Linked DNA regions of Homo sapiens: all the other regions are linked to region 3. A link means that fine-mapping ties the variant in region 3 to the expression of a gene that starts in the linked region. Tissue or cell type: whole blood. Region 3 holds a variant in brackets; each other region holds the start of a gene. All regions are shown on one strand. Distances are between the middles of the regions.

The links. PIP is the estimated chance that this variant, and not a neighbour inherited with it, causes the effect.
Region 1: CCDC175 starts here. The variant in region 3 is fine-mapped to the expression of CCDC175 in whole blood (INTERVAL, PIP 0.94).
Region 2: RTN1 starts here. The variant in region 3 is fine-mapped to the expression of RTN1 in whole blood (INTERVAL, PIP above 0.99).

What each region holds. Positions count from the first base shown.
Region 1 is chr14:59,573,256-59,581,412 of GRCh38, reverse strand. CCDC175 (coiled-coil domain containing 175) reads left to right here and starts at 4,601. Exons shown (of 20, transcript NM_001164399.2): 1 at 4,601-4,794; 2 at 6,385-6,470. The coding sequence starts at 4,638.
Region 2 is chr14:59,867,515-59,875,671 of GRCh38, reverse strand. It overlaps RTN1 (reticulon 1), which reads left to right and starts at 4,896. Exons shown (of 9, transcript NM_021136.3): 1 at 4,896-5,282. The coding sequence starts at 5,042. RefSeq lists a silencer at 4,888-4,987.
Region 3 is chr14:59,539,817-59,547,973 of GRCh38, reverse strand. It overlaps CCDC175 (coiled-coil domain containing 175), which reads left to right. Exons shown (of 20, transcript NM_001164399.2): 9 at 2,675-2,811; 10 at 4,520-4,630; 11 at 7,228-7,299. Among named protein-coding and RNA genes, the nearest start is that of CCDC175, 33 kb to the left of the region's middle. The variant C/T (reference allele first, on the strand shown) is at 3,768.

The DNA.
Region 1 (8,157 bases), 33 kb before region 3:
CACAAGGGTGGGATGTCTGGGGCTGCAGCAGCCATCTGTGACCATGAGGCAACAAGCTTGATGATGAAATGATAACATGCACAAAGCAGTGAAACAGGCAACCACTTTCTATATGTGAGATGTTTGACCCAACTACCAAGAATGGAACCTTGCCTTGATCTAACTCAGGGTCTAGGCCCAAGGAGTTTAGACTTTGCCTAGAGATACTAGATTTATGCAAAGATGCTGTAAAAGCAATGTTATCATCAAATACGATATAGACCTCACATACAGAGACTGCAAACCTGCCAGAACATATGATCGTATTCATTCCTGTGCAAGTTAGGGGCCAAACTCCAAGGATCAGTTGGGTTCTTTCCCTGGCTCTAACAGCAGCAAGGGCTAAACAGAAACAAACTTGCTTTATGATAACTAAAAATCTATGTCAGCACCAGACTGGAGGATTCTCAATGTCATACTGGCTGTTCAGCAAAAGTCCTCTTTAAAATACTGCCTGAAAGATAAATGTATCTGTTTGTGTTACCAAAGTAAAAATACATGAGAAAAGGACATGCATTTTGGCCAAGTGCACACCAGCTGTAAGTAGTGAAGGCTGAGAAATCTTTTTTTATGTGTCCATTATTTCTAAAGTTTCCTATGGCTGCTGTTACAAATTACCACAAACTTAGTGGCTTAAAACAATACAAATTTATTGTTTTAAGTAAAGCAAATTTAAAAGTAAAACAATACTTAAATGTATTGTTTTACCATTTTGGAGGTCAGAAGTTCAAAATGAGTCTTTCTTAGTGAAAATCAAGATGTCAGCAAGGCTGAATTCTCTCTGGAGGGTCTAAGGGAGAATCTGTTTCCTTGCCTTTTCTAGTTTCCAGAGACCACCTGCATTCCTTGGTTCATGGTCCCCTTCCTCCATCTTCAAAACTAGCGGCTTAGCATCTTCAAATCTTTCTCTGACTTTGATATTGACTCTCCTGCCTCCACCTTTCAGTTATAAGAACTCTTGTGGCCAGGCGCAGTGGTTCATGCCTGTAATCCCAGCACTTTGGGAGGCCAAGGCAGACGGATCACCTAAGGTCAGGAGTTCAAGACCAGCCTGGGAAACACAGGGAAACCCCATCTCTACTAAAAATACAAAAATTAGCTGGGCGTGGTGGCGGGTGCCTGTAATCCTAGCTACTCAGGAGGCTGAGGCAGGAGAATCACTTGAACCCAGGAGGCGGAGGTTGCAGGGAGCCAAGATGGCGCCACTGCACTCCAGCCTGGGTGACAAGAGTGAGACTCCGTCTCAAAAAAAAAACAAAAAACAACAACAAAAAAAACAACTCTTGTGATTACATTGGGCCCACCTGGACAATCTAGGCTACTTTCCTCATCTCGGAGTTTACTGATTAACAATCTTAGTTTCCTCTACAACCTTAATTACCCCTTACCAGGTAACCTAATATATTCACAAGTCTCAGGGATTAGGATGTGGACATTTTGAGGAGGCATTATTTTACCTATTACATCTATAATTTCACTAACCAGGAATAACTACAGGTAACATTTTAGTGAACAATTCTTCTCAGACCATTTTCTATGCATATGTTTATAGAGATATACCTATATACATCTCTATAGATATATGGACTTGTAAAAATTAAATATTAATTGAATACTGTACATTTCTTTTTCAACTTGCTTTTCCCACTTTATACATATGTATGTGTATGTACATGTAAATTTCTACCCATTATTCTTAATAGGTACCCTATTATTACTTTATCATTAGTGTTTTTTAAGTATCTACCATGTGCTCACTTAATTTAATCCTTTGAACAATCCTATGAACTGAGAACTCCTATCACCGTCACCACCCCTTTAGAGCTGAGACACTGGCAGCATGAGCTGGGAGGCTGTCTCAGGAGATACTCCATCCAATCAGTAGTGGAACGCATTTAAATCCACCAGAACCCAAGCTCTTAACCACATGGCGGATTGCCTTCTAGATTGTTCCACTGCATGGATGTCCCATAAATTACTTAACAACAGTGTCCTACTGTAGATCATTTGGGCTATTTTTCAGTATTTAAAACAGGACTGCAATAAACAAGTTCATACCTATGCCCATGGACAAACCTGTGATTATTTCTTTAAGAACAATTCTTAGAAGAATTACTGTATGTCAAGGCTCCTTACACAAATTTCCAAATTGTCCTTCAGATAGTATGCATATTCCCAGTGTCAATACTTTGAAGTATTATTCTTTTTAATCTTAATATTATGAGAAAATGAGAGTATTATTTTTCTTTGAATGCTAATGAGGGTAAATGTTCTTTCCGTATGTTTCTCGGAATTTTTTTTCTTTTATTAAGTGATGATTCATGTTGTTTGCCTAGATTTCTATTTCAGAATTTATAAAGTTTCCTTTGAAAAATTGTGGTTGAATTTTGTACAGGGCATCCCATATAAAAGGAACCATGAGACAAGTTAGAAGCTGATCATCTCTCACAAAATATTTAATTTATAAAAATTAAATATTAATTGAATACTGTACGTTTCTTTTTCAACTTGCTTTTCCCACTTTATACATATGTATGTGTATGTACATGTAACTTTCTCACAAAGTTCAGGGAAAAAGAAAGTATTAGAGACATGAAGGGAAATAGAGAAATGTAAGAAAATCTGTAACAAATCCAGTAAGTGGGGAGGACACAAAATGCCCCCTTAAGATTAGCCTTTATTCATAGATAATGGAGAGCAATGTGATCCAAATGATGCGATATGTAAGAAGAGTCTTCTGGTGACAGCTTAAGGGTTGCCTTGAAGTAGTCCAGTCTAGATATTTCCAGAAGAGAGAAGTATATCACAAGGAATTTGTTACAAGGGGTATAGAAGCCAAAGGGTAAGAAGATAAAGAAGACCCCAGACATCAGAGCTGCCATAACACCTGTACTGTACGCACAAGCTCACATATAGTGCTGAGCAGCTGGAGACTGCTGGAGTCACTTGGCTCCTACTCCTGCCACTTCTAGAGCCACCAAAACTGCTGGGACCTACAGTCAACTGTAGCCTGAAACTACCACTTCTGGAGGCAGAAATGCATGATTTCTCGGCCTTCTAATCTCCCTCAAGTGTTTCCCATTAGTGGAACTTACCAAGAAAACAGGTGGCAAGGACATCCAGGAAATTTCATATCCAGTCTTCTTACTCCTGCCACACAGAGGAGGGCCCAGAAGGGCAGGAACAGATTTGAATACCAATAGACCAAATCCAGCAAAAAAGGAGGATGTTGTCCAGGATGGTTTCCAACACCAAAATATGGCACTCCCTGGATGAAGGAGGCCTGGATTCTAGAACTAGTTCTGCTACTGGTATGCTGTGTCCCCTCCAAGGCAGTGTTGCACAGTGGTTTAGGATGTAGCTCAGTGCCCTCACTTGCAAAGCAGGCAATAATACCTAGCTCAAAAGATTATTTGTGAGGGTTAAATGGGGTACTGCAAAGTATTTAAAACAGTGCCTGGAACAAAATAAGCATTTAACAATTGATAGCTATTGTCATTGTTACTATCATTCTAATTTCAATTTTGCCATCTGTAGAGAAAAGAAGAGGAGGGTTGAATCACCTTTGCTTCTCTCTAACCCACCAGAGGAAAAGGAACTGACAGACTCAACCTAAGCCTCATGCTAAGCTGAATTTTGGAGATGCAGAGAAAAATGAATAATATCCTCCTGTCCCCGTCATCACAGAGCTCACAGTTCGATGGGAAGACAGAGAAAAATCACTATGATTCAAGGCAAAATGTGCTCAGTGATGTACTAGATACAAGGAAAGTTCTAAATTAGTACAAAAGAAGGTTTTGTAGCATAGTAGAAAGAGTCATACAGACTTCACTTTATTATTTTATTTTATTATTTTGAGATGGAGTTTAGCTCTTGTCGCCCAGGCTGGAGTGCAATGGCGAGATCTCGGTTCACTATAACCTTTTCCTCCCGGGTTCAAGCGATTGTCCTGCCTCAGCCTCCTGAGTAGCTGGGACTACAGGCACGCGCCACCACGCCCGGCTAATTTTTGTATTTTTAGTAGAGATGGGGTTTCACCATGTTGATTAGGCTGGTTTTGAATTCATGACCACAGGTGATCCTCCCGCCTTGGCCTCCCAAAGTGCTGGGACTACAGGCGTGAGCCACCTCGCCCGGCCCAGACGTCACTTTAAATCCAATATTATCCTCTTGTGGTCTTGAGCCGTTCATTTAGTCGCCCGCGCCTCAGTTTACGTGTCTGTAAAAGTGGAGGTACTAAAAGAGCCTGCTCACAAAGTCCTTGTGAAGATTAAGTGAGCTACTGTATATAAAGGTTCTCCTGCAGTATCCGGCACAAAGATGCGCTCAAAAGTGATCATTATTATGATTCCAGTGGCCCACAAAAAAGATACAGGCCTGAACTAACGCAATGGAAATTGAAAGGGGAAAAATTAGCTAAAGAGAGAGTCATTCTTCCCAGACTGCTTAATTATCGTGGATAAAATTAGAGAACCAGGAGGGTACCTACTAGAGGTGCGGGCCACGAGGGGGCGCCCCACGACCTCGGTGTCCTCGTTGCCCGTGGCAACCGGCAATCCTTGGCTCTGGCTTAGGAGGCGCTCAAGTAGAGCGGCAAAATGGCCCTGAGCCCCTGGACCCCAGGGCTGGGCGCTGGCGAGAAGCTGGTGCAGGCGGCTGCCGTCTCCACTGGCCCCTCCCTGGAGTTATGCACCTTACCCTCCACCCTGGGCTCCTCGGTCGCGGTCGAGGCGCTGGAGCAGCTGTTTGTTGTGGGTAAGACGCCCCTCGGGCGCTGGAAGGGACGTCTCCTCAGAGGTGGCGCTTAGGAGGCACTCAGCGGGAACCCTGAGCGGGGACTCTCCTCCCGGAACCAGGGCATCACTGGGCAGGGCAGAGCCTTCTCCCCGCTCCTTGGAGGCTGGGGAGAGAGAGGTGGCGGGTGGGACCAAGTGCCCAGATCTCCTGCCCTAGCGCAGCTGAGGTGACTTCGCTCAACCCTCAGTAGTAGTTAAATTACTGAGGTGACAAATCCGGGACTCCCAAGCCACTGCCCTATGCCTGCGACCTGATTACACACCTGCATTTAGATTATGCCTTCGATTTCAGTTCTCTTCTTGCCGTTCCTTTACAAGTTAACTTCCTCCGACATTTTGCCGTGGCAAACTGGAGAATTTAACAAGCAAATAGGAAAGGGAGTGTTTAAGAGGCTTCTGTTGTGTTGAGCAAGAAAAATTAGATGTAAAGGGTTGTTTAGGAGATTCTAATAGAAAATGACCTTGGATAGGGCCAGGTTAAAGTATTTTTCAGTTAGAAAGCTGAACCTGTAATCAAGTCACTTAAGCTTAAGGTAAGACAATCCAAGAAAGGGTGTTTCTTGTTCGGTGCAAAAACCGTTTAGGCCAAACAACAAAACATTTCAGTGCTTCACTAGAATCATCCCATTTCTTCAAGATAATCGTATTGATTTATGTTACAATGTTACTATTAATTTGGGATAGTTTTTATTTTCCTTCTTAAATGCGCTAGGTTAATTTCACAATTCTTAGCAAATATGCTTGGGTAAATGTTATCATGAAGAATGTTGGCCGGGCGCGGTGGCTCATGTCTGTAATCCCAGCACTTTGGGAGGCCGAGGCGGGTGGATACCTGAGGTCAGGAGTTTGAGACCAGCCTGGCCAACATGGTGAAACCCCGTCTCTACTAAAAATACAAAAATTAGCCGGGCGTGGTGACGCACGTCTGTAATCCCAGCTACTCGGGAGGCTGAGGCAGGAGAATCCGTTGAACTCAGAAGGCAGAGGTTGTGGTGAGCCGAGATGGTGCCACTGCACTCCAGCCTGCGCGACAGAGCGAGACTCCGTCTCAAAAAAAAAAAAAAAAAAAAAAGGAATGTTACCCACTGAGGAGACCTAAAGTTATTAAGACCTAAATTATTCACATGTATCTGAGGTCACTGTCAATGACAGACCTAGAACCTTGAACTCTTTTCATACTTGATCTCTAGATCGGCATGCCAATGCAACCCTAGTACTTATGTACAAATACATTTTTCTGTTAATGTCTAGACACTCAGAACATATTTCATAGGAAAAAAAAATCATTACACCCTCTTGCCCTGAGTTATAAAATATTAATATGTAAATCTCCAGCACATTTGTCCTCAAGGAGCATAAAATATATACCTAAATTATAACATTATGGAATAGGAAATAAGTACAAAAGAGATTAGTGTAATGTACAATAAAAATTCAGAGACTGAAGATGTAACTTCCAGCCGAGTAAGCATTTGAGCTAGATCATAAAAGGTTAAGTAGGATTTGGATAGATAAATAAGAGATCTTTATTTTCTAATTTTTTTTTCAGAACAATCACTGCAAAGTGACTATTTTAAATGTAATGAAGAAGCTAAGATCTTTCTTAAGGACATTGCTGTAGCTGTTAAGAAATTGGTATTGTATTATCTATAAGAACCATTTCTTCAATCTTCCACATATTTCTTCAAACTTTCATTTCGCACCAATTCTGTTCAAAGTATTAAGTAGATGACTAGGGAATATAGTTACCCTGAACTTAAAAATATTTTTCTCTCAATTTTGTAAGGATTTGCACAATTATTGATCAACTGTGGATTGTTACTTGATTTTCCATGAAGAAAACTAAATTATGGGCTTATGGCTGTGGATGAGGGCAAGCTCATTTAGAGAAAGCAATGTGGGTGATAATACGGTTCAGTTAAGAGGTGGACCACATGGGCAAATGCTTGGGACACCAATATATAAGCATTGCTTAAAACAAACAAACACACAATCTCTGGAATAAATTGCAAGCATGGTGCTAATTAACTCAGTTCTCTGTAAGCAATTCCTTGCATAACTGGTCAAAGATTATTTGACATATGTTCCACTGAAGTAGACGGTACTGTTAGTGAAAACAAAGAGAAACTCTTTCAATTACACTTAACTGGCCCCTATCAAAGACATGTTGAAGAAATATTTAAAGAATTTCCTTCTGAGGTGTCACAGACATCTCTGTTCGGCCAAGGATCACATTGACAATGCTTCCTTGGCACAGTCAGAGTAGTGAAGGCTCTCCATTTTATTTAAAAATATTGGATAAGAATTTACTACATATCAAATTGCTAAAAATGTTGAAATATGGCTGTAAATGAGTTTGAATCCACAGACTGCTGATAAAACTCTTACTACTTTATATTTTATATAATTATACACATATATATATCTATACTACATAATCATACTTTACAATCCTACTTGAGTAGGTACACGTAAACACTGAGGGATCATGTGTGTTGTGCAGCTCTGTGGTGCTGTGAAAACATTTTTCCCTGCTTGGTTCTTTCTTTCAGTTATGTCTTTCGCTAGGATTTTAAGAGGCCAAAATATTTATTGTGGTTAAAGTATCTAGTCTGTATTCATTTAATATCTGAGCCGTGAAATCTCTTAAACAACAGAGATCAGGCTGGGTATGGTGGCTCACGCCTGTAATCCCAGCACTCCGGGAGGCCAGGATGGGTGGATCACTTGAGGTCAGGAGTCTGAGACTAGCCTGGCCGAGACATGGTGAAACTCCATCTCTACTAAAAATACAAAAATTAGCCTGGCAAGGTGGCGGGAGCCTGTAATCCTAGCTACTTGGGAGGCTTGTAGGAGAATTGCTTGAAACCAGGAGGCAGAGGTTACAGTGAGCTGAGATTGACCCACTGCACTCCAGACTGGTCAACAGAGTGAGATTCCATCTCAAAAAAAAAAAAAACAAAAAAACAAAAAACCAGATCAATCCTTTTATTTTTAAAAGTAATACATGTTGACTTTGAAAAATTAAGAAAAAATAGATAAGCAAAAGGACCACATTAAAATAATCACTATTAATGCTGATGAATATACTTTCTATTTTCAGGGTATAGGTGATAACTGCATTGAATTTCATTTTTTACAGAAAAGTGATGATGCTATATATGTAATTATATAGTCTGCTTTTTATAATTCATAAAATATAATGGCAGTTTCTCAGGTCATAAAATAGCTATAGCTATTATGACAGTTTATTTAAAAGATGATTTATCTATTTTTTCCCACCAACTGATTTCTTAGCAGTGTTTCCTTTCTTAAAGTAGCC
Region 2 (8,157 bases), 330 kb before region 3:
TGATACTCATCACAGAAATAGGAAAAATAATCCTAAAATTTATGTGGAACCATAAAAGACCCAGAATAGCAAAAGCCACCCTGAGCAAAAAGAACAAAACTGGAAGAATCACATTACCTACTTCGAATTGTACTACAGAGCTATAGTAACCAAAACCATGCCAGCATGGTACTGGCATAAAAAAAAATAGACCAATGGAACAGAGTAGAGAAGCCAGAAACAAATCCATTAATCTGCAGTGAATTCATTTTTGAAAAAGGTGCCAAGAACACACACTGGGGAAAGGACAGTCTCTTTAATAAAAATAGTTCTGGGACAACATTACATTCATATGCAAAAGAATGAAACTAGACCCCTAACTCTTGTTGTATACAAAAATCAAATCAAAATAGATGAAAGACTTATACTGAAGACCTCAAGCTAGGAAACCATTAAAAGAAAACACTGGGGGCCAAATAGATGTGGTGGCTCATACCTGTAATCCCAGCACTTTGGGAGGCGGAGATGGGCGGATCACTTGAGGTCAGGAGTTCAAGACCAGCCTGGCCAACATAGTGAAACCTCGTCTCTACTAAAAACACAAAAATTAGCCAGGCATGGTGGCAGGCACCTGTAATCCCAGCTACTCGAGAGGCAGAGGTAAGAGATTTGCTTGAGCCTGGGAGGTGGAGGTTGCAGTGAGCCAAGATCACGCCACTGCACTCCACCCTGGGTGACAGACCAAGACTCAGTCTCAAACAAACAAACAAACAAAAACAAGAAAACATTGAAACATTGGGGAAAGTCTCAAGGATATTGGTCTGGGCAAAGATTTCTAGAGTAATACCCCATAAGCACAGGCAACCAAAGCAAAAATGGACAAATGGGATCACATCAAGTTAAAAATCTTCTGCACAGCAAAAGAAACAACTAAGTGAAGAGACAACCCACAGAATAAGAGAAAAAAATTGCAAATTATCCATCTGACAAGGGATTAATAACCATAATATATAACGAGCTCAAATAGCTCTATTAAGAAAAAATATAATGATCCAATTAAAAATGGGCAAAATATCTAAATAGACATTACTCAAAAGAAGACATACAAATAAATAGCAAACAGACATATGAAAAGGTGCTCAATATCATTGATCATTAGAGAAATGCAAATCAGAACTACAATGAGATGTCATCTGACTCCAATTAAAAAAACTAGAGCTACCATATGATCCAGCAATCCCAGTTTTTTATATATTATGGTTATTAATCCCTTGTCAGATGGATAATTTGCAATTTTATTCTCTTATTCTGTGGGTTGTCTCTTCACTTAGTTGTTTCTTTTGCTGTGCAGAAGATTTTTAACTTGATGTGATCCCATTTGTCCATTTTTGCTTTGGTTGCCTGTGCTTATGGGGCATTACTCTAGAAATGCTTGCCCAAACCAATATCCTGGAGAGTTTCCCCAGTGTTTCAATGTTTTCTTGTTTTTGTTTGTTTGTTGGGTATATACCCAAAAGAAAGCAAAAGTATATTGAAGAGATATCTGCACTCCAACGTTTATCACAGCACTATATTATTCACACTAGCCAAAATTTGGAAGCAACCCATGTGTTCATCAAGAGACAAATGGATAAAGAAAATGTGGTACATATACACAATGGACTATTATTCAGTCATAAAAAAGAATGAGATCCTGTCATTTGCACAACATGGATGGAACTGGAGGACATCTGTTAAGTGATATAAGCCAAGCACAGAAAGACAAACTTCTTATGTTCTCACTTATGTGTGGTAAATTAAAATTAAAACAGTTGAATTCATGGAGATAGAGAGTAGAACGGTTTCCCAGAGGCCAAGAAGTGTAGTGCTGGGAGGCTGGCAGGGGCCTGAGGGGCATGGAGGTGGGACAGTTAATGGTAGATATAAAAATATAGTTAGATACGAGTGAATAAGATCTAGTATTCACTGGCACAATGGGGCACCTACAGTCAACAATAATTTATTTTATATTTCAAAACAACAAAAAGATTATAATCGGATTGTTTGTAACACAAAGAAAGGATAAAAGCTTGAGGTGATGGATACCTTATTTACCATGATATGATTATTATTCATTGTATGCCTGTATTAAAATATCTCATATACCCCATAAATATATACACCTACTATGTACCCACCCACAAAAATTTTAAAAAAAATCTCCAGGTTACAGTTGAGGAACCTGGGTTGTAGAGATGTTAGGTAACTTTAATATTGAGGCTGGAAAGAATTTCATCTTGGTTAAAGCTTGTTACTTGTGGCGCTCTTCCTGCATGTCCCCACACCGTGTTTCCCCATGATATATGGTTTGGACTAAGTTAAGAAGCTAGTGCTAAATAAATGCTCCTCATTTCTTCTTTTCAAATGATGAACAAAACTTCTTTTCCAAAAAACAAAAGCTGAAAACAAAACGTGACAGTTCTTTTGTCTCAACTCTTCTTGCTAAGAACCTTTTAAAAGTGACAATCCTATTTTCTCTGTGTCTGAAAAGCATTTTAGAGTAATTCGTAACTTAGAGCAACTATGTAAGCCCCAGAATCCCATTGCCGACTGTGTGTTTTGCCCATAAATCTTCAAATTAGTCAAGCTTTGTCAGTTCAGAGCGGTGCAAAATAAATAATATTAATAAACATGAATCATTTCAAGTCATAGCATAAACCTGAAAATTTCTTCCCCCAAATAGATAATTTTTATACATCCAAAGGTGGAGTCTAATAAGGAAAGTTAGTAATGAAAATTGCTAACACTGAAATCTTGTGCTCATCTCTTTTCAGCAGTGTAAAATAGAATACTTTATCAAAATGGAACTGTCAATAATGTTCAATTTCCTTTAACAACTACACTCTAAATAGATTTAACTGGCTATTTCCTTCACACATTCTCAATGAGAGTATTGATTAGTATGAAAGAAATTGACAAATAATTAGAATCATATCCCCAAACTTCCTATCTATTAATCATAAGGAAACACAGAGGCTTGCTTAGGTCTCCCAGTTTTTTAATGATGACTTTCATTCATGTTTCTCAGAGAAACAAAAGAATATACTTCATATTATTTTGTATGTAACTCCTTTGCATAGCAATTCTCAAATATTAGTATTCATCAATAACCACTTTAAGGTTATATCATTAGAATTGTCTATGTTCTTGTCTTGTTATCAGTAATAAAACCATGAGAAATTCCCATCTAGTATTTCTGATGCTTTAGGGAATACTAAGTAATAGATTTGAAAAAACTTACAAGTGCCCTCTAATTACAAGACAGGATTAAGCTCCATGGAAATACAGCAGTGGAATAAGCTTTTCAACTTAACGGTTTTTTAAATACACTCTTGTTTTCCCATGGAAAGATGTTTAAAAATCATTATGATTCATGATAACCAATTATTTTGTTGTTTTTGGATGAGATTATTTTTATAGATTTATTGAGTTATAACTGACAACACATTAAATTGTTCATATTTACAGTAAACAATAAGTTTTGACATATGTTTGCACCTGTGAAGCTATAACCACAATCTAGATAGTGAATATTTCCATCATGAGACATAATTTTGAGTATGTCAAAAATGTAAAATTTTGGTGACCATCAGATTTCCAGGGATATCTGGCTTCAGGAGGCCATATTTATTGTTTAGTGAATGATTTTTCTCTAATTTATTGTCATCTTTTGAACATTAGTGCACTAGCAGAACAAAAGATTAGGCAGACTCTGGGCTTTTTCATTTTAGCATTATTGAGGAGCACCTGAATGGTCCTGAAGTTGGCCTTTGAATATACCAATGGACAGGTATGAAATCCTCAAGATGCGCATGGTGGCCAAGAGTCCCACAGTCTCACAGTGTGTGCGGTACCGTCTGCGCCCACCTTTCCTAGAGAAGAAACAGCAGAAAAACCTATTCCTTCACCCTGTGTGTTGTGGTGAATCTTAGTTTTTAAAGGCACATTATTTTATTATATAAACAACTTGGGAACCAATAAAACACAAGACATTTGAAAAGATGGGTCTTCGTATGGGCACAACATATGATAAGGCAAGTCACTTTCCTCCTCTGAGTTTGGGTTTATTTGCTGACTATCTTCCATTTTATCACAGTGAACTGTAAAGAAAAAGATGCAAGCTTCATGGAATGTCCAAATTCTGAAATACAACGGACTGCACAGACAGCTTATGATTAGGATGGCCTTGGCTCAGTGTTTCTGAAAGCAAATGTACAGCTTTTGTCCTTGCCTATTGACACCCTGTTTGCCCTCAGGGCTGGTCAGGGTGAGATCTGTTAAGCTTTTTTTGGAGGCTGTCCTGATAACTCATTTCTTTACTCCACTATTTTCAGGCCCATTCTGGAAACGCAGGATTTAACCGCGGGGTTGCAGCTTCCCTGGTCTCCATCTGCCATCAGAACCCATCTCCACCCCTTCCCCGTTCAGACCTGTGTCCCCTCCACAACTCATACTGGTCACTCTCAGAACTGTGGCCCTGAGTTCTCTAGCTTTCCCTCTTTGCCTCGGGACCCAGGACACCAGTCGGGGCTTAACTTTCTCAGTTGGGAAGGCGACGCTGCTGGTGGCTGCTGCTACTTGCTGGTTCTTCCTTTTTTTTCCTCCCCAAACGAGAGGAAGATTCGAGTGGATTTGGCACATCCCCTAACCGGGGCCTGCCATTTGCAGGTTGGGGGCTGACGTGCCCAGGAGGACCCGGACCAAGCAGGCCATTTTCACCTGCGTAATAACAGGATTGGGAATAGCGAAGCAGCGGCGGCAGCAGCGAGTGGAGTAGGAGGAGGAGCGCAGGCAGCGGCCGCGGCGGGGCCGGAGGAAGAGGAGGGGGGAGAAGGAGGAGCTGAAGCGGGAAGAGCGGCAGGCAGCGGCTCGGCGGAGTTGCAGCAGAGGCGGCGGCGACGCTGAGACACCGCAGCTTCCCTGAGCGCCGAGTCCCTCCGGGGACAGCAGCAGGGAGCGCCCGCGCAGCCACCGAGCCTCTGCCCAGCCAAGCCGCCGTCGCCGCGCCGGGGGACCGCCAGCCATGGCCGCGCCGGGGGATCCGCAGGACGAGCTGCTGCCGCTGGCCGGCCCCGGGTCCCAGTGGCTCAGGCACCGGGGGGAGGGGGAGAACGAAGCGGTGACGCCGAAAGGGGCCACGCCGGCGCCGCAGGCTGGGGAGCCCAGCCCGGGGTTGGGCGCCAGGGCCCGGGAAGCGGCGTCGCGGGAAGCCGGCTCGGGCCCCGCCCGGCAGTCGCCCGTTGCCATGGAAACTGCATCCACAGGTAAGGCGGGCGCCGCTGCCCCTCAAATGGCGTCGGGGACCAGGGCCCCCCAGTCAGTCCCCTTCTGCGCGGCTCTCCTGGGCACCTGCCTCGCGCTTTCTGCCTTGAGCGCCGACCCCACCCCCGCGTCGCCACGGGCGACTGGGAATATTCGCGGGCTGGTAGAAAACAACAATTTTATTTTTCCCAAAGGCTCAGAAAAAGTCAAGATGCTTTTGATCCTTTTATTTCATTATCATGATTATTTCCGCTTTAAAAATTGTTCTCATAGGCAAACAGCAGCATTCTGGCTGCTGGCGAGTCTGGGTACAAGTTTCTCCCTCCTGCCAGGAGGCTCCGAGCTGTAGGGCCCGTTTGACAGGTTGTGGGGATTTTGGGGGGCGTGTTTGCGCGCAGTGTGCGCGCCGGCTACAGGAGATGCTGACAACCGAGCGGCGGGCAGGCCCGCGGCCCCTGGACCCGGCTCTGTCCAGGGCAGAGATGTGGCTGTAACTGCCCCTTACCCTTGCCCTCCACGAATCGCCACCACACCTTACTCCCCCCACATCCCTCCGCCTTTTCTCCCGCAGAAAACAAATCCCAGGGAGTTTGTCCCTAATTCGGGAGGCACAGCTTTGCAAGAGGGTTGGGTGCTGTGGCTGCCCCCGCCCAAAACCTGTATTTCGCCGCTGCCCGGATGGCCCCACCTTGCAGGGAGCATTGAAACTTCAAGTCCTAAGTGCGGCGGGCCTGGCTGTGGGTTGGAGGGCTTGGGTGGTGGTGAGTGGACGTGGTACAGTTTACCAGCAGTCTAAGCGCCCCCCCCCCCCCACCCCGGAAATTGCCCTGGGTTTGGCCATTCTTCGCCTGACGCCCTATTCAAAGTCTGAGCGCGCCAGTGTCCAGCGGGAGCCCAGGCCCCTGGCGCATCCTGGTCAAAGGATCCAGGAAGCGCGCTTTGAGGCTGCCGGCCTGGTTAACGCTGTTTCCAGGGAGAGGAAAGGGGATGCTGTGTGGTGCTCTTTCCTGAGAAAGCTTTGCTATGGTGGAGTGGGAGTTGTGTAGTTTTGGCAATGTAGAGCTAGAAGGCCTGGGGTGGGGGGTGCTCCCAGAGGAGGGGAAGGGGAGTGGGACTGGTGTGTGTGCTCTTGGTGGTTGATTTAAAGAAACCCCTTTTCGTAAGCTTCTCTTAAGGGTTATGTGGAATGTCTAAGGTAATCGTAATTAACTGCCCTGGTACAGAAGATCTGAGCTGGGGAAAAGAGGTTTGGAGAATGCGTTGAATAAAAATTGTCAATATCCTGAAAGGAAGAGAAAAAGTGGAGACCCTATATAAGAAAAAAGAAAAAGAAAGAAAGAAAAGTACTCAAAAGCCCCAACGCCAAACGCCAAAGGTTATATATTAATTATTATATCCCTAGGAGTGGGGGAGGATTTAAATCTAAGAATGGCTGCTCAGTCTCTCTTTCAACTTCTGCATCCAAGTGAAAACAAAACTCTTTATAATTGCAAAAGAAGATGGCAAATGATAATAGACAAAGGAAGGTAGTTTTTGTCTTTACCATTCTTTGTTGAGGATAGACTGCTCATAGTTCAGAATCTTTATCCACTGTAATCAAAGTAAATTGTTTCTTTATGAAACATTACCCACCTCCTATTAGTGCCACTAAGATTATGTGAACTAGAAAAAGGAAGCTAAGTGCCCCATGCTCAGTAACATATCCACAAAAGTTATTATATAGGAAATGCTTAGAATATATATTTGTGGGGTACAGTGTGATGTTTTGACATATGTCTGCATTGTCAAATGATTAGCTAACAAATCCATCATCTCATGTACTTTTTTTTTGTGGTAAAAGCGTTTAAAATTTACTCTTTTAGCAATTTCAAAATGTACAGTGCATTGTTACAGAAAGGTGGCTGTAGTAAATAACAATGCATTTTGCATTTTTAGTATTATTATTATAGAAATACCTTGCTTTATTGAATGTGTTTGGGGTTTTCTATCCTAGGCAACAAATATAGTAATAAAATCAAACATGATACTACGTTTGGATGGGAGAAGAATGAAGAAAGATGGAAGGAGCACATATTTTGCATATTTATATAGAAATTTTTTAGTTTATGATTGTGGCTAGAAGGAATTTCTGATATAGTTGTTGATTGGTTAATGTCTTAAATCTCTGTGTTTCTTATTAAGTAGACCGGATGTGCTGCTATAAGAGACTCAAACGCCAGAAATGCTGTATAAATAAATAACTAGATCTTAAAATTCCAAACAAATCTTGTCCAGCTTCCTGGTCTGTTATTTTGGCAGTTCTATTGCTATAAGCAAAGTTAGCAGGTGAGCCCTCAATTGTATCAGAGATGCCTATTAAGCACACTACTTTACACTGTATTTCTTAATTTACTTTTTTTTGGCTTATAAACAGAAATTTATTTTCTCACAGTGCTAGAAGCTGAGAAATCTAAGATCAAGGTAGATTTGGTGTCTGGTCAGGGTCTGCTTCCTGGTCCACACACAGCTGTCTTTTCACTGTGTCCCCACATGGCAGAAGAGTGCTTTATTTTTTTAAAAGAGTGGTGCTTTTTTGGGACTCAACTCAAACTAAGAAGTAACTTAGACTTTGAGTGTGATGCACTGTAAACAGATTTTGTTTCTTTTTTAGATGGAAATATAAGACAGATATTGATGTTTTAATAACTGTTTTTCTGAAAAACATCACCAATCATGCCATCTGGACAGATATTCTGTTATTTATTTTTATACATTGATGGTAATTAAAATTATCCCAGGAACATTTCCAAAAATATGTCTCAGCAGTGTCCTGGAATGAATATAAGTTTAAACATTATTAAAACTGCACCATAAAACTCCATCAATCCTCTATTTTCA
Region 3 (8,157 bases):
TTTCATTTCCTTGGGATATATACCCAGCAGTGGCATTGTTGGATTTAGCTTTGTTATTATAAAATATTACACATTACAGAACAATACATAAACCATAAATATACAATATTTATGTACATATTTTTGATGAATATAATTTATTAATTTTAATGAAGTCCAGTTTATCAATCTTTTTAGTTAATGTTCTCTATGTCCTATGTCATGAGACTATTCTCTTCTGTTACCATTGAGAAGCTTTGTTGTTTGACCTTTCACATTTAAGACTACGAACCATCTGGAATTTATGTGTATGTGCTTTGAGATAGTGGTCAAGATTCATATTTTTCCATAAGGTTGTCCAATTAACCAGCACCATTTACTGAAAATACAATCCTTTCCTTCACTACATTGTGGTCATACTATTGTCATAAATCAAGTATAGATCATAAATGTATATGTGGATTGTTGACTCTATTCATTTGAACTATTCATCTCTCCTCACACTAAAACAATATTGTCTTAATTAGTACCTTTAAAATGAGTTTTTATGGCCAGTGGTATAAATCCTTCACCTTTGTTCTTCAAAAGTGTTCCAGCTATTCTTGACCTTTTCAATTTTGTCACGTTCTTCCAAAAAACCTGTTTGGATTTTGATTGGGATTGTGTTAAATCTGTAAATCAGTTTGAAGAGGGTTTCACATTTTCACAGTATTGAGGCTTCCAATCCGTTAACATGGCATATGTCTTTTGTTTTAGATCTTCTTTGTTCCCTTTGCCTTAGCTGTTCAGTTGCACTATGATGTGTCCAAATTTTCTTTTCATTTTTCCTCCTTGGGATTTATTTGGCTTCTTAAATCTGAGAATTTCTATATTTCATAAGTTCTGCAAAATTTTCAGCCATTATGTCCTCACCTGTTTCTTTTGTCCTATTCTCCCTGTGTTGCCCAGGCTGGTCTCTAACTCCTGGGCTCAAGTGATCCTCCCACCTCCGCCTCTCAAAGTGCTAGGATTACAGGCACGAGCCACCACACCTGGCCTATAGTAGATTTTGATTGCTTTGTTTTACAGTATTGATTTTACTCAAATGTTGAGAAGCTCTAGATATTTGTTCATCTTTTAATTGTGCATTCTTTTTTATTTATTTATTTATTTATTTTTGAGACAGGATCTCACTCTGTCACCCAGACTAGAGTGCAGTGGTATGATCATGGCTCACTGCAGCCTCGGACCTCCCAGTCTCAAGCAATCCTCCTGCCTCAGCCTTCCAAAGGGTGAAGCTCTTTGGAATCCCAGACTAAAATAGTGGGAGGTTTATGTAGGCTCAACACCTGGATGAGCATTACATGTTGGCTTTTGTTCCACTTGCCATGCAAAAAAACCCAAAACTTGGTTTTCAAGTGGTTTCTTCTATGTTAGTAAGTGTTTTCAAGGCAGAGGAATTTTAAGTGCTAGCCTTACCGCTCTGGATTCTTCATTCTCCTAGAATTAGGCCTAGCAATCACCTATTATCCTTTATTTTTTATTTTTATTTTTTTAGATTCAAGCACATGTGCAGGTTTATTACAAGGGTATATTGCATAATGCTGAGATTTGGGCTGCTAATGATCCCGTCACCCAAGTAGTGAACATAATACCCAATAGGTAGTTTTCCAACCCTTCCCCACTTCTTCCCTCCATCTTTTTGGAGTCCCAGTGTCTATTGTTCCCATCTTTGTGTCCATGTATACCTAATATTTAGCTCCTACTTATAAATGAGAATATGCAGTATTTCATTTTCTGCTTCTGCATTAATCCACTTAGGATAATGGCCTCTAGGTGCACCCATGTTGCTAGAAAGGATATGATTTCATTCTTTTTTATGGCTGCATAATGTTCCATGGTGTATTATTACCACATTTTCTTTATCCAATCCACTGTTCATGGGCACCTGGGTTGATTCCATGTCTTTGCTATTCTGAATAGTGCAGCAATAAACATGAGCACAGGTATCCTTTCGGTAGATTAATTTATTTTCCTTTGGGTATATACTCAGTAATGGGATTGCTGGGTTGAATAGTAATTCTATTTTTGTTTTTTGAATAATTCTTTGTTATCTTGTGAGTTCTTCAACACTTCTACAAATATTTTTTCATGTAGCTATTTTAGTTGTCCTCAGATAGAAGGTTGTTTTGAACTATTCAGCCCATTGTTTCCGCTAAACTTGACTTTCTTACCTCGTTTGAAGCAATTTAATAAGCAAAAAATTCTGATCTCATGTAGAACACTGGTGGGTACTATTTTTTGTCCTCAAATAGAAATATTTCACAAGAAGCAAGCATAATATCAACTCAAAAATGTTTTGAGGAAGAGCTTCTGAGGATGTTACATTTTCTATAGTTTATATTCTGGAAAAGGACATACTAACGTTGCTCAGCAGTCACAGTTTATTCATCCCATTTTGCATTTCAATATGGATTATTACTCTATGGTTTTGCAGCAGGGTTTACTATTTTTCTATACTTAAAAAAATTTATAGTAGAGGTCTCAAAATATACAGTTGTATGTTTGCTATAGAATTAAATCACTCGGCATTTATGGCATATTCACGGTGGGCTAAGCAATATCCCAGGTGCTCTCCGAGTTGCCACCTGATGCAGATGGCCTCAGAGGAGCAGTGAAGCCAGTCCTCTCATTCACCTCCTTTGTTTTTCTCTAGCTGGTTGAAACACTGCATGCTGCTCGTATGGAATACAAAGACCTACGAGAGAAAATGAAAACTCTTGCCAGACAATATAAGATTGTTTTAAGTGAGGAAGAAAAAGCTTTTTTGCAAAAACAAAAGATTCATGATGAGTATGTCTTTACCCACACGTGTGATTCAACATGCCATCATTATGGGGTGCTTTTCTTGCTATCAAAGTGGTGGCTCTCCACTTAAACTTATCCTAGTTTTAAAATCTATTGACAAAAATGAAAACATTTGCTATCATTACTGGTTTCTGTCTCAGCAGCTCAGGCTGCCATAACAAAATACCATAGACTGGCTGCTTAAGCAACAGAAATTGATTTTCTCACGGTTCTGGAGGCTGGAAGTCTGAGTGAGGGCCCTTTTCTAGCTTACAGCCACCCAGCCGCTTTCTCTCTGTGTCTTCACAGGGTGGAGAGAGAACATGCTGTCTGTCTGGTGTCTTTCTTTTATAAGGTCCCACCCTCATGTCCTCATCCAAACCTAATCACTTCCCCAAAGGCCCCATCTTTATAATATGCTCGAGCATTATCACGACACTAATGCCCCACAATGTTCCTTTCTGCCATTCTAAAGCACTTTAAATTTTAATTTTTTCTCATGAAAAAAGCAATGCCTGTACTTGATTTTTAAATTCAAATATAGAAATGTATAGCTTAGAGAGTAAAAATTACCCAAATCTCTCTATTTCTTCATCATGTTGGGGGTTAGCATTTCAACAGATAAATTCTGGAGATGGGGGAGGCACAATTCAGTCCACAGCAGTTTGGAAGATGAGTCACTTAGATAAAATACTTTCTGATACAGGCAGCTTCCTATCAATAGCTGGGCATTTGAACAAGACTATAAACTTCTCTGAGCCTCATTATTTTCTCCTGCAATTTGAGACAAAAAAATAACTACTTGAAACCCCATCTCTACTAAAAATACAAAAAATTAGCTGGGCATGGTGGCGGGTGCTTGTAATCCCAGCTACTCTGAAAGCTGAGGCAGGAGAATCGCTTCAACCCAGGAGGCGGAGGTTACAGTAAGCTAAGATCATACCATTGCACTCTGGCCTGGG[C/T]GACAAGAGCCAGACTCCGTCTCAAAACAAAACAAACAAAAAAAACCCTTATCAATCCACACGCTGAGAGGAGCACTTTACATCTTATTAAATTCATTCATCCGTTGAGCTAGGCATTGTAATTCTCATTTTATAGCTGGTGAAACTGAAGCTTATTCACAGGTGAAGCTAATTGTTAGCTTAAGATCACACTCTTATTAAAAGGTAGAGCCAATATGCAAAATTAATCTGACTGACTCCTTCACCTTCCATGGAAGAACATGACAGAATTGATAAGCACGTTAGGAGAGACACACCCACTCAGAGACATGGAGCACTACACAACTGTTCTTGTTGTTTTGTGGTTACTATTGTGGTGAATATTCTTTCAGTGGCTTGGGAATTTTCATAAATTTTATGAAAATCCTATGTGTATGCTGGGCACAGTGGCTCACGCCTGTAATCCAGCACTTTGGGAGGCCAACATGGACCAATCGCATAAGACCAGGCATTTGATACCAGCCTGGGCAACACAGGGAAACCCCATCTCTACAAAAGTACAAAAATCAGCTGGGAAAAAATTTGAAAAAAAGAAAATCCTTTGCATAAATTTAGATCTAGCTACCACTAGCAAAAAGACTTGCTTTCTATTTTTTAATAATTTATGTAGCAAATAGCTCATGATCTGAACTTTCAAAACTATTTTTGAAATTCTTATTTGTGTTTGCATATTTATGTCAGCCTTCAACAAATAACTCTGTTTTTCATGATAGAAATCAGAAACAGCTGACATTTATTTCTCAGAAAGAATACTTTCTGTCACAAAAGAGAGTAGACATCAAAAATATGGAAGAAGGACTCATCACACTCCAGGAACTTCAACAGTATGTTTGTTGCCTTTGAAATTTTTTATCTTTACTTTCTCTGCATTTATTTTTTAATAAATGATAGCAGTAAATCTATGTTGATTTCTAACATACTACAGAAAAGGAAGTTTAGAACTAGCTCTCTCTGTTTCACAGTCTGGAAGTCACTCTCATGGACTTTTTCATTGAAAGGATAAACAGGTTCTGAATTCTATGGGAGCTCCTGGGCCCCAGGAATGGACCAGTTGGGGTGCAGTGACAAGAATGTGCCTGAACATTATCACAACACTGAGTCCCATTGATGTTCATTTCTGCATTCTAAGTCATTTTAATTTTAATTTTTTTCTGATTAAAAAATAATACCTGTACATGATTTTAAAATTCATATATAAAATGCATAACTTAGAGAATAAAAGTTACCCTAAAATCTCCATCTCTCCACAGGCATAATCACTGTTAACAGTTTACAATATATGCTTTCAAATATATATTTATATGTATGTATCCAAAAATTGGATTATACTCTACTATAACTGAATTTGTTCCACTTAAAATTATACCTAGGAGGATGATAAAACAAATAAGGTAAAATGTTAACAGTTGGAGAATTTGGTGAAGGATATATGGGAATTCTTTGTACTATTTTTTTATGCTTACCTGTTGAGTTTAAAACTATTTCAAAACAAAGAGAATATATATATATTCTCAATATATCTCAATCTTTTCTCTAACTGCATAGTATTCTATGCAGATTATAGTATAATACACATTATACTATACTGTATTTAACCAGCACTCTATTGATGGAGATTTACTTTTGTCTGTTGCCTATATTACAAATATTTGAAGTTAACATATCTCTCTCTACCCATATGACTTTTTTTTTGTAATAAAGTCCTAAAAGTTGAAGTGCTGGATCAAAGGAGGATGCATATTTTTCACTTTTATAATGATTGTCAAAATGACCTATGTAAATATTCTACCATTGTACACATTAAGACTGAGCATAAGGAGCTTATAGTTCAGTTGGGCAGAGAAGCAAGACTAACACATATGAAATAATTAATGAACCACATATGATGGTGAAAAATAAACCATGTATGACAGTGAATTATATAAAACAGTCGGGCATGAAAGTGAAATCAAGGAGTCCTTCGTTATATAGGATTTAAAATTTGAACTAGACCTTTAAAAGCAAGTCAGATTTTTCTGTGCTCATTGTATGGGAGAATGATATCACCACACAAAGGGAGACACATGATTTAAATATAGGACAATCAAGAAGCCAGCTTATAGAACTAAGGTAGGGGGTGATGAAAATTCAAGCACATACCAACAGATATCTGGAATGTGACAGGAAGCATAGGTTCCTTGCTTGAATGGTTGTCCCCATATTGTTAAATAATATATTCAAACATCTGTTTCCAATTATGTCAGCTTCATAAGGAAAACTACGAACTACTAATAAAAGAGGAGGAAGATCGATTTGGACTGAATCAGGTTTTATGTTCCTCATGAATAATGCAAATTTTATAGTCAGTTACTGTGCATAATTGCTCTGGTCACCAGGAATCTCAAAGCCAAATTTGTGGCCCAATGTTATTATCCATTTAGGATTTTTTTATATTATTGTTGCTTTATTTTAAACTGGTTCAAGTTCTTTATGGATTACATTAAATATGTAAATAAACAAAATCAGTAAGGTTGGGGTGAATTGTGAAGACCCTTAGAGATCCAGAGGAGGATATTAGATTTATTTTGGTAGGAAATTGAGAGTCCATACTACAGTTTCAAACAGACAAAGAAACACGAGAACAGGTATGTTTCTAGTTTATTTAAGAGTGTTTCCTATTCTAAGTTTCATTTGTGAATATTTCTTTCAAAAGATATAAAGCAGCATTTTACTTATGTGGCTTTCAATTCATTTCTGTCCAAGAATCACTTAATAGGGAAAAGGCGGGGCTGGGGATAAAAATAAAGGCTTCTGTTACCTATGTTGGAATCTTCACATTTCCATCCATCCTACCACAAGAAAATCTTCTATCCTTAGTTAGTACTTTTCCCCAGTTCAAGAAACTATATTGGCTTTCTGAATTGTATATTATATCAAATCAGAGCTCAATCTAGGGTCTGGAGTTCCTCAACAATGTGTTGACCTTACTTCCTCTTGTGTCATAGGGTTATTCTTTCCTTCATGTCCTCTGTATACAGCAAGCCTAACTTAAGTCATAGCAGAGGCCTGACTTGCTGTTCCTTCCCTCTGTATTTGCAAATGATGACACCCTTTCCTTGGTAAGATTGCACCTCCATTCTGGCAATCCACATTCCTCCCTCTGAGAAACATTAACCTCTAGTAACCCTTCATCAGTTGCCTCCCCAGAAATCTCTTCTCTATCCTTGGCTATTCACCACAACCGTTGCAGAATCAGTTTGCACTAACATAGAATTGCAATTGTCTATCAGTCTGCCACTGAAATGTTTAGTTGTTTCACAAGGCTTATTTTGTCTCCCAATTAGACTATAGCCTTACTGAGCATACAAATTATGCGTATAGAGTCTATTGTATATTCTAACAGCTCCCATAAATGCAAAATCCAATATGTTTTTCTTTTTAGAGCAACAAAAACAGTGTATCAGCAACAAATCAAAATCCTGAGTGCTAACCTGGAAAGAGAAAGTCAGAGATGGTAAAAAAAAAAAAAAAAAAAAAAAAGTTTATTTGTGTTTTGTGTTATCAGCAGTATATGTTATCTTAATGAACAGTGCAGAGTACTTGTTGTTACTAGAACCCAAGGGAATGATTTTCCTAAATTATGTGTAAATTCTCTCGGATCTAGATGTATTGGTTAATTTGATTTTTTTTTTTTTGGCATTGAACAGAATCAAAGTTTTCCATTTCAATCAAGTGCGGTCACCAAAGAGTAAAATTGCTAATATTTGTGCAATGCCTTTTGCTCATCCAGGCCTCTTTGTGAACCAGTAGGGGAGGTGACAGGTATGGTAAGAGAGGAAGGTGGCGTGAAGGCTACTGGCTCTGCAGATGGCCTGCTTTGGTTGCTGTCCTTATTAGCTCTGTGACCAAGGCTAAGTTATTTAATCACTTCTCTTTGCTCCCATCCCTATAAAGTGGGGAAGGATAACAGTATCTACCTTATAAAGTAGCTGTGAATGTAAATGAGATGATACATGTAAAATACTGTATTTAGATCAGTGCAGCTAAAAAGCTCTTGCTTATACTTAGCTGTATTTTATTATCGTTGTTGTTATTGTTAGTATTATTATTATTATTTTGAGACAGAGTCTTGCTCTGTCGCCCAAGATGGAGTGCAGTGGTGCCATCTCGGCACACTGCAACCTCTGCCTCCCAGGTTCAAGCGATTCTCATGCCTCAGCCACCAGATTAGCTAGGACTACCGGCACGCACTACCACTCCCAGTTAATTTTGTTTGTTTGTTTGTTTTTGAGACGGACTCTCACTCCATTGCCCAGGCTGAAGTGCAGTGGAGTGATCTCGGCTCACCACAACCTCCGCTTCCCAGGTTCAA